Regions from separate parts of the Homo sapiens genome. Here region 1 is linked to region 2. The links come from fine-mapping of genetic effects on gene expression. A gene starts in region 2. The other region holds a variant in brackets. All regions are shown on one strand. Distances are between the middles of the regions.

Region 1 (5,375 bases), 160 kb after region 2:
ATGCAAAGGACGGATTATTGGAATTTAAGGTAATATATGTTTAGGTTCTGCCACAAACTCATATTTCATAGTCACATTTAAGTACTAATTGCTAATGTGCAACTAAAAATAATTATTTGTAACTAGGATATTTTTGTAGAGAGACTGAATTCACCTGATTTGCAGTGATGAACATACGTTAAATAATGTCTTAAAGGAACTTTTTGGCAGTTCAAAACAGTGGTCTGAATATAATTAAAACCAACTAAGGCAGACTGGCTATAAGCCTTTTTTATTATTAATGTATAAATCAATTTAAAATGAATTTGTCATCGAGTAATTCAGAGGGTCTTATTTTAGAACTTTCACTGCATTTTAGTAGGTCTTTTATTAAAATATTTTCTGGAAATAGTCAAGAAACCTAGTGATTTGTATAGATATTCTTTTTATAAGAGATTATACAGTAATTAGATTATGCAGTAATTTTGATTTTCTGATCCACGAGGGTATTGGGGAGATCATTGTATGCATTGACTTACAGTCGGCACTTAATAGACCTAGGTGAATCTATATTCTTCTGTCAGCCAAGCACCCTCCTACTGTTAACTAGAGCTGGCACACTTAGGTAGGGAGCAGAATAGAGGGATAAGGTAAGAAATAGGAGTTAAGCAGAGGCTTGGGTGACAGCCACTGACAGCCAGGTGCTGCCCAGCTGCCATGCCTCAGGTAGGCCCATCCTGCTTGATTCTGTTCTGCAGATACCTTAGGAGCACATGCTGTCCAAAAGGGGCTATGCTAAGAGCACAGGGGTGTAGTGAATGTGTCAGGAGAGGCCCTGAGCATTGGTAGAGGTTTGGAATGGGCACATCCTCCCTCAAAGGAGCCCAGGACAGGTTCGGGTCTTCAGCCTCTTGGTTAAATACCTGAGAATAAATAATGAAAAGAAATAGCAGCTTTTTTTTTTTTTTTTTTTTTTTTTTTTTGAGATAAGAGTCTTGCTCTGTTGCCCCGGCTGGAGTGCAGTGGCACAATCTCGGCTCACTGCAACCTCCACCTCCCAGGATCAAGCAATTCTTCTGCCTCAGCCTCCCAAGTAGCTGGGATTACAGACGCCTGCCACCATGCCCGGCTAATTTTTGTATTTTTAGTAGAGGTGGGGTTTCGCCATGTTGGCCAGGCTGGTCTTGAACTCCTGACCTCAGGTGATCCGCCCACCTCAGCCTCCCAAAGTGCTAGTATTACAGGCGTGAGCCACTGCGCCCGGCCTAGAAATAGCAGCTTTTTAAAAGACAAATACTTTTTTTTTTGAGACAGGGTCTTGCTCTGTCACCCAGGCTGGAGTGCAGTGGTGTGATCTTGGCTCACTGCAACCTCCGCCTTCGGAGTTCAAGCAATTATTGTGCCTCAGCCCCCGAGGAGCTGGGATTACAGGTGTGTGCCAACACACCTGGCTAATTTTCATATTTTTTGTAGAGACAGGGTTTCGCCGTGTTGCCCAGGCTGTTCTCAAACTCCTGTCCTCAAGTGATCCACCTGCCTCAGCCTCCCAAAGTGCTGAGATTACAGGTGTGAGCCACTGCGTCCAGCCTAACAAATACTTTTTAAGGGCACATATCATTGGTAAGTTGTGAAAGCAGTCATGAAATGTCATATGTCATTAGGGAATTGTATTTGAGAGTTAAACTGTGTGTAGAAATTTCACATAAGAAAATATCAGGGTATCCTGCAAGTGTCAGCTCGATGTAAATGGATGTGATTTTGACACCGCAGTCATCAATATAGTCTGGGCCACGTTCACTGACGTCCAGAGGAGGAAGGGAGATGGCCCTCCTGGCTCTTTGGTTGGACCCCTTCTGGAGGCTGGATTCAGACCTCTGTCACATTTTAAGAAGACATTGGTGAATTAGAGTGTGTTTAGTTGATATCCTGGAAGAGTAGGAACTCTAGAAATCTTTTCATATGAGAACAGTTAAAAGGAACTGGAAGTGTTCAGTGTGGAGAAGGGAAAACTTAGGCAATATGTGATGTTTGAAGGGCCCACGTGGGAAAGAGATTAAAACTTTAATCTTTATCCAAGCTGGAATCCACAGACCAGAATTATGGATATATTGCAGTTCAGTGTGAGATGACCTTTCTAACAATTAGTGCAGGTATAGAGACTTTTTAAGCATTTATAAAGTGGTTATCAAAAGCAGACAGGGCTCTTGAGCTTCAGAGCTGCAGTATCCTCCTTTTCTCCCCAAGACGAATTGGGTTTATCTCATAAGCATTATTTTTATTTTTATTTATTTTTGAGACAGAGTCTCACTCTGTTGCCCAGGCAGTGGCGTGATCTCAGCTCACTGCAACCTCTGCCTCCTGGGTTCAAGCAATTCTCCTGCCTCAGCCTCCCAAGTAGCTGGGATTACAGGCGCCTACCACCACAGCTAGGTAATTTCTTGTATTTTTTTTTTTTTTTTAAGTAGAGACGGGGTTTCACCATGTTGGC[G/A]AGGCTAGTCTGGAACTCCTGACCTCAGGTGATCCAGCCGCCTCAGCCTCCCAAGGTGCTGGGATTACAGGCATCAGCCACTGCACCCAGCCTCATGAGCATTATTTTTAAAAGACTTGTAGTAACTTGGATCAAATGCTTCTGGTTTTAGTAGTTTAAGAGTACATGGATAGAGTTAAGTGGATATTTACATTCTGAGTCTCTCAAGTCTAAATTTTTATTTTGAAAGTTCTGAGAAAATAGATGTTTTAAGCTACAAAGACAGGTAATTGTCTTGAACCCAGGCCATGCTGTGGAGACGTTCACTGTCCGTAGACTAGTTTTGCATTGACAGTAGAAACAGGAAAGTAAATTGCTAAAAAACATTCATTTTTCTTTGACTTCAGCCAGGCACAGTGGCTCATGCCTATAACCCCAGCACTTTTGGAGGACAAGGTGGGAGGATTGCTTGAACCGAGGAGTTTGACACCAGCCTGGGCGATATAGTAAAAACCCCGTCTCTACCAAAAAAAAAAAAAAAAAATGCCAGGCGTGGTGTGGCATGCGCCAGTGGTCCCAATTCCTTGGGAGACTGACGTAGGAGGATCTCTTGAGCCCAGGAGGTTTGAGGCTGCAGTGAGCTATGATCATGCCACCACACTCCATCCTGGGCAACTTTAGCAAGACCCATTCTCAAAAAAAAAATAAATAAATAACACTTTTGGGCCGGGCGCGGTGGCTCACACCTATAATCCCAGCACTTTGGGAAGCCGAGGCAGGCGGATCACAAGGTCAAGAGATCGAGACCATCCTGGCCAACATGGTGAAAACCCATCTCTGCTAAAAATACAAAAAGTAGCTGGACATACTGGTGCCCGCCTGTAGTCCCAGCTACTCGGGAGGCTGAAGCAGGAGAATTGCTTGAACCCAGGAGGCGGAGGTTGCAGTGAGCCAAGATCGCGCCACTGCCCTCCAGCCTGGTGACAGAGCAAGACTCCGTCTCAAAAAAAAAAAACAAAAACAAACAAAAAAAAAACTTTTTTTTTTAATTGACTTCATTACAAAATACGATGGTGATTTGGACACTTAAAATGTCAAGTGGTTCTGAAAGAGATATCTCACATGTGTAATGTTTTGCCTCTCTCCAAATTAGGAATGGCTTTCTAAAGGACATGGGGAATACAGAGAAATCCCTAGTGAAAGAGACTTTTTTCAAGAAGTCAAGGAGAGTGAAAATGTGGTTTGCCATTTCTACAGAGACTCCACATTCAGGTAACTTTGTTTCCATCTGTGACTTTTTCTAAAAAAACACAGTGAATTGTTTGGCTGGAGATATACTGGCTTACTAGAGAAATGAAGAAAACTAAAAGAAAAAACTTCCTAAGTTGTTTCATTGTACTCTCTCATATGTTATTTAGTATTAAGTTAAGCAGGCAGGGGCCCAGTGACTCAAGCCTGCAATCTCAGCACTTTGGGAGGCCAAGTGGGGGGTGGATCACTTGAGGTCAGGAGTTCAAGACCAGCCTGGCCAACATGGCGAAACCCTGCCTCTACTAAAACTACAAAATTAGCCGGGTGTGGTGGCAGGTACCTGTAGTCTCAGCTACTGGGGAGGCTGAGGTGGGAGAATTGCTTGAACCCAGGAGACAGAGGTTGCAGTGAGCGGAGATCGCGACACTGCACTTCAGCTCGAGCGATAGAGTGAGACTCCATCTCAAAAAAGAAAGAAAAAAAAAGTTAATTGTTATTTTAAAGAGTAACTTAAAGAACAGTTACATGCAAAAGTATAAATGAATATTACTGAAAGTCAATATTCCCATATAAATGGCTTATATTTTTGAATTGTATTTTCACTAGCTAACTAAAAACATCTTAGAAATGTACACTTAAAATTCTTATCACCATGACAGTAATTATTTCCCTCTAGTATTGTGATGTAGCCATGATATTGGGAACGGGCAACAGCTGTTGAGAGTCAGTGTTCCTTCAGTTCCTCCTTGAAGGAACTAGCAACTGTGGTGGGGAGATGGTGGCTTGGCCAAACCTTTCACCAGAGCAGAGTTGGGACTGCCAGTCTTGGCTAGAAGGAGAAGTGATTTTTCTTAGACCACCCTAGGTCTCCAAATTTCTCTAAGGAAGCAGATCTCTTATAAAATGTTAATACCTCCTCAGAAGAGGTCACATCGTAAACCAAAGGACCCAAGCCTTTGTGGTTTTTTGTGCACAGATTTGATTAGTTGCCAACACTTAAAAATCGAGAGATAACTCCTTTTGAAAATATCCACACTTAGAATTTTTCTTTAAAAAATCAGAAAACTTGCTAATAGCATAGCTGGAACTATGATGGCAGTCATCTGCTGACTGGCACCTGCCTACCCAGGACAGACAAGCACTGTGCTCTAGAGTCTCTGGCACTCACTGTGGTTTCAGCCCTGCTCTCTTTCTCATTTCTGTGGCCTTCTTGCCCCTTTGTCTTGATCTCACAACCCAACAGCTTCATTGTTAGTTAACACCTTTCAAGAATTGATTGCCTGGTATTCATTGACTAAGAGAATAAAAATGAAACAAAATATTGAGATGGTGAAATCCCTTGTGAGGAACAGTGAGAGAAGGGATTAGGCAGGTAGAAAGGTATCAGAGAAACCTCTGCCCTTATGGTACACAACCATCTCGCATTGGCACACATTCCTCAAGTTGCCAACCTCTGACAAATATGATGAGGTGATATATAAATATACTAGTATGTAAAATATTATTTGTCCACTTGTTTTTTTTTTGTTGTTTTTTTTTGTTTTTGAGACAGAGTCTTACACTGTCACCCAGGCTAGAGTGCAATGGCAGGATCTTGGCTCACTCCAACCTCCACCTCCCGGGTTCAAGTGATTCTCCTGCCTCAGCCTCCCGAGTAGCCAGGGCTACAGTCACCCAC
Region 2 (5,375 bases):
GATATATACACCTGTCCATGTATGTTTGAAAGAGTTCAGTCATATTGTCAAACATGATGGTATGTTTGAAAGAGTTCAGTCTTGGTGAACCAATTCCACTGCCAATTTCCTAAGTTTCTGTGGGTGTGAGATCATTCTGCCTTATTATTTCATCTTTCAGCATAATGCACTGAATCCTTATTACAATCAGCACACTCTTTCCTATGGAGTAAATCACATGTTATTGTGTCTACATCAGCCAAGGGACTTGAGTACAAACCTCTGTTTTTAGTAGTTTCATGCTGTTTGTTTTTGGTATTTGAGAGACTAGATGTAAATGTTTCCAAGGAAAGTTTACTGCCAGATACAGAGGTGAAAGGACAGAAGTCATGTCCTTATCCATGGCTGTCCCTCCAAAGGTCAGTGGTTGGCACTTTCATAGGCCTTTTGAGATAGCAGTAATGAAATGAATTTTAATGAGGTTCAGAAAACGGAAATAAGGTACAGTGCCCCAAAGCACTCCCCCAAGTGTAGGGGTCCAGCGCGGCCATCTCTAGACCCCCAGAGTGGCCCAAAGGTCAGCCTGACTCCCCTTACATGAGAAAGATAATCCTATGAGAATAAATATAAATAGATAAGTGGGTGAATAAATGTAGGTGCATGAAATTGAAACAAGAGGACTTCATTATGTGATGGCATAAAACATAATATTCTGGAATGGACAAAAATAAAACTTTGGACTGGGTGAGGTGGCTCATGCCTGTAATCTTAGTGCTTTGGAACACCTAGGTGGGAGGTTCGCTTGGGACCAGGAGTTTGAGGTTACACTGAGCTATGATCTTGCCACTGCACTCCAGCCTGGACAACAGAGCAAGACCCTGTCACAAGGATGCTAGAATTTGTCCATAAATACATTTTTATTTATGTATTCCCCATCTCTCTTTTTATCCTATTTTATGTAGACAGCAACGTGATTTTTTTTCGTCCTTTACAGAGGCTGCCTACTAGTTTGCAGTTAATACCATTTTACTGTATTCTATAAAGGTATTGCCAAGGTCAGTTGGCTCAAGGTTTGTGTTTCTTCCTTGAGAAAAATACAAAAAGAAGAAAAAAAAAGATCTTCGGTTTGAATACGAGAGTGGAAAAGAAAATTGAAATACAATCGTGCAGGAATGCTGCCATTTAGACATTTAAAACAAGCAAAAGAACAACAACCAAAACAAAACTCACCCATAACAAGGGGTTACCACTGTTTTTCTGTAGCATCTCAGCAGATGACCTCCTGGTGTTGCAGTCGGCAACTGGTCGTGAGTCTGTTAAAATTATGGGCAGGCACGGTGGCTCACGCCTATAATCCTAGCACTTTAGGATGCCAAGGCTGGTGGATTACCTGAGGTCAGGACTTCCAGACCAGCCTGGCCAACATGGTGAAACCCCCTCTCTACTAAAAATACAAAAATTAGCCGGGCATGGTGGCGCATGCCTGTAATCCCAGCTACTCGGGAGGCTGAGGTGGGAGAATCACTTGAACCTGGGAGGCGGAGGTTGCAGTGAGCCGAGATCGCGCCATTGCACTCCAGCCTGGGCAAAAGAGCAAAACTTCGTCTCAAAAGAAAAGAAAAGAAAAGAAAGCAATTACGCAATTTGTTTTAAATTATGACGTCTTTGAAAAGTATGCAATCTAAATTCGTTGGATTAGCGACGAGAATACTGAAGTTGAAGTGCATTTATAGAAGTCTATAAAATGGCAAAAAACTGAAAGGGAAAGAAATGAGCTATTTGAGTATTCTCTGTGTTGCTAGTAAACAAGTTCCAACTCTGCAAATCAGTTTTCAAAAGAATACTGATTGTTTCCTAAGTACCTGCAAACTCTGAAGCATTTTAGGCAAGGGAATGAGTGGGAAAAAAGTATCTTCATGTTTGTGCATTACAACAATAAAGACTATTATGTAACAATGTGGAGTCTTCAAAGCGACCCTGCCAAGAGGGAGAAAGTGGTCCTTATGGACGGATTGTTTTCTGCTAGAAGGCCCTCAATTAGAATTGTACTTACGCATACATAATATAGGATATTATTTTTATATTCATAGAAAACTGCTTTCTCGGGTAACTCCAGCGCTGTACATGGGATGGGATACCGGCCCTCCGTTTACAAATACTCAGGCGCAATGCTGCCCGGGCACTCAAAGGACAGAAGATAGTGTCTGTGCCCTGCGGGAGCAGGCCACGAATCCCGAAAACGCCGTGGCGCAGTGCTCCTTCCCGCGAACCTGAGTGGGCCGTGGTTCTCGGTTGCTCTGGACATAGGAAAATGTCAGTTCATGTGTGTCCCTTTCTCCACTAGATGTCACTGTAAATCAATTGCTTAAGGAGGGAACCCGGGCGTCTGGCGCATCTTCACACAGTACCGGGGTTTGAAGCCCGGTCAGTGTCTGCACTTGTGTCCTTCCCCACTGGGGAGCCCCAAGGCGGGGCAGGCGCGGGGACTCGCTGTGCACGGAGCGGCGCGCTGTCCGAATGGCAACCGAAGAGCCGCGACCCGGTCAACGAAGCGCGGGGGTGACCGGAGCAGGACGGGCGGGCAGGCGGCGCAGTGCGTGGGCGGGCCCGCGCTGCGCTCCCCTCCGCCCAGCTAGCGAGACGGTCACGTGCCGCCCAGGCGCTGCCCCTTGCGGGCGGCTGCAGAACAACAGGGCGGGGCCGGGGAGGGGAGGAACACGGAGGCCGACGCCGGGCGCCGCGGTGCTACGCCCGAGGCTGGGGTCGCCCCGGGCCGGGGGGAGCAGAGCGCGTGCGCCGCGCGGCTGTGAGCGCGAGCGGGGCCGGGGAGCGCGCGCGGAACGCTAGGGGGCGTGGCTGCGGCGCGCGCGCTAACCGGAGGGGGAGGGGCGGAGAGCCACCGCGGAGCGCGCGCGGGGTTGGTTGCCGCGAGCGTGGGGGAGCGTGGACCGCGGCGCTGCTCAGCGGTGGGGCTGCCTTCCCCCGGCCCTCCTCCCTGGTCCCTGGCGAGGGCACTGGCGGCGGCGGGGCCGGGGTCCGCAAGGCCGGAGAAGGCCGCCGGGCCCGGGCATGGTGGTCTGGGGCAACGCGGAAGGTGAGCGACCCCCGGGCCGGCGGCGGGGTGGGGGAGGGGCGGGATCGGACACGCGTCGCCCGGAGGCGCCGCAGACCCGCCCGGCAGCGGCCAGAGCGCGGTCGGCCTGAGGTGGCGCGGGGGAGGGGTGCGTCGCCCCGGCCCCGGCCCGCGGCCGTCCTGTCGCGGCCTGGGCTGTCCACGGCGCCTTCCCCTGACGCTCGCAGCCGCCGGGTTATGTAATGTGTGACCTCCCCTCCCCTTCCCTTCCGTCATGGCGCGGCCGGCCCCGCGCCGCCGCCAGCCCCATGGGCCGCCCCGCGCCGACCCCTGGCGCAGCGGCCCTTCCCTCCGCGCCCGGCCGCATCCCGCCGGCCCGGTCAGACCGCGCCGCAAACTCCTTCCTCCTGCGCCGGCGCCTCGGCCGGCCATTCAGTTCCGCGCCATTCATTCACGCGCGCGTTCGGGCGTTCGTTCCACAAGCGTTTGTAGAATGTCGACCCGGTCGAGCCGCCGCTCCCACCCGCACTCCAGCCACAGCGTTTTTCCGCACCCCGCCTTCGACGTCCCCGGTGCATCCCAGAACCGGTCGGAATGTCCGAAGGCGGTTGTTGCTCCCTTGTTTTTCCTTGCTGCTTGTCCGTTCGCTAAATACGCTGGGCGCCGTTCCCCAACTGTCCTTCCGAGAGCCCCTTGCCCACTTCTGTACTGTTACAGTGACGCCGCTCTGGGCGCACCGAGCCGCGCTGTGTTTCGCTGCTCTTCCTACCTATTCTCAGTTTGTAAAGAAATAATCTCACATAACACTCCTTAATGTACTCCTCCGTAAGATAAATTGCAGATAATATACGTCTGCTAATTCTCTTTATCTCCACGTCTTCTCACGCCATGTACTAAGTAGAAATGGTTTCATTTAGGTGAAAATAATGCAGACTAGCACATAGCACAACAAGGGCTTGTAACTATTAAGGACTTTATGTAACAGTCTGTAATTCTGTGTATCTGTCTGGTCTTTCCGGACTTGGCACTTTAGTCTCCGAGAATAAGCCATTTCCTGTTTAGGTAGGGTAGGACCAACCATAACCTTGGTTCTTTCTATGGAGTTCTGTATGTAGCAAATCAGCCTGTGGGAACCATCTATCTGTCCACCAACCTTTCACACATATTCTTGGGTTTGCCCGTGCAGGGACCAGTGCTGCGTATTGTTCCCTGCCTTCCTGTACTGGACACTTAAGAGCTCACCTAAAGTTCCTCTTCCAGGAATCATTCTCCAGTATACAAGGCTCTCTTCCATTCAATTCTTAGGCTATTTGCGCCTTTTCCTGTGTTGCGTTTATCTTTTTAGCCCTGTCTTCTCTTACTGTGTAGGACCTTTTGAGGGTAGAGTCTGTACCAAACTCCTATCTTTTGTTGTAGAACCTTAACCGCTATTTTACGGTAAACCGTACATATTTAATTTTTTTTGTAAAGATGGGAATTGCTCTTTTAAAATTAATTTCTATGAGGTCTCAAGTAGAACATAATTTTTAAAAAATAATGTGCTTGAATATATAAGATCACTACATTTCCAACTTCCCACTCGCAACTTCAAAACTCTGATTCTACATAAGAGCATTAAGGAAACGTTGTCCTCACCAGCAACAAACTGGTCATTATTCATAAGAAGTTGCAGTGACTACATATAATATATATTTGAAAGCACTTTCTTTGATAGCTGCTGTAGTGGAAAGACAGGAAGTTCACAGTTACATGGAGGTTAGATTTCTGGCCCTACAAATTGTTAGCTGGTGACTGGACAAGTTAAGTTACTAGTATCTCTGATTTTTTCTCGTTTGTAGAATGAAGATACCATTTCCCACCTTGGGTAGCTGAGGATTAAATCAGTTCTTAAACGTGAGACATCTAGTGACACCATGGTACTCAGGAGGTGCTCAGTAAATACATATTCCCTTTGGTATACCTGTTTATTGCAGTTCACAATCTAGAATGAGCCAGGATGTGCTAGAGACAAAGCGTGAGAGGAAAGGTAATCAGAAGAGGTGACAGGTACCTCTCGTCTCCAAATAAATGAACAAGTCCTACACTAAAGAGCATTGTGGGTCTTTCTGCTTTTCAAGAATGTATGGGTGTGTATATGTGGCGTATTACTAATCATAGAGTATATTAAACAGAACATTTAAAAATGAAAAGTTTTTTTTTACTATAATAGCACCAACTGAAGCGTTAACATGGACATTAAAAAATAATCTTATTTTTTTCCAAAGGCAAGTCAGGAGACGAGACGGGAAAAGGGATATTAAAAAGGCTCTTTAGAGGCAATTAG

Which allele goes with the higher level. Positions count from the first base shown, and alleles are read on the strand shown. Sizes are in standard deviations (SD) of each study's normalised expression.
In carriers of allele G in region 1, the expression in whole blood of the gene that starts at base 2,873 in region 2 tends to be higher than with A alone (small effect, 0.33 SD a copy in Lepik 2017).

The links. PIP is the estimated chance that this variant, and not a neighbour inherited with it, causes the effect. A credible set is the group of variants that fine-mapping cannot tell apart.
Region 1: its variant is the best candidate, but not a certain one, in a credible set for the expression of REV1 in whole blood (Lepik 2017, PIP 0.52).

What each region holds. Positions count from the first base shown.
Region 1 is chr2:99,325,878-99,331,252 of GRCh38, reverse strand. It overlaps TXNDC9 (thioredoxin domain containing 9), which reads left to right. Exons shown (of 5, transcript NM_005783.4): 3 at 3,600-3,718. Among named protein-coding and RNA genes, the nearest start is that of TXNDC9, 7.8 kb to the left of the region's middle. The variant G/A (reference allele first, on the strand shown) is at 2,468.
Region 2 is chr2:99,487,515-99,492,889 of GRCh38, reverse strand. It overlaps REV1 (REV1 DNA directed polymerase), which reads left to right and starts at 2,873. Exons shown (of 23, transcript NM_016316.4): 1 at 2,873-3,073. RefSeq lists an enhancer at 2,050-2,935 and silencers at 2,369-3,038, 3,149-3,248, 3,319-3,398.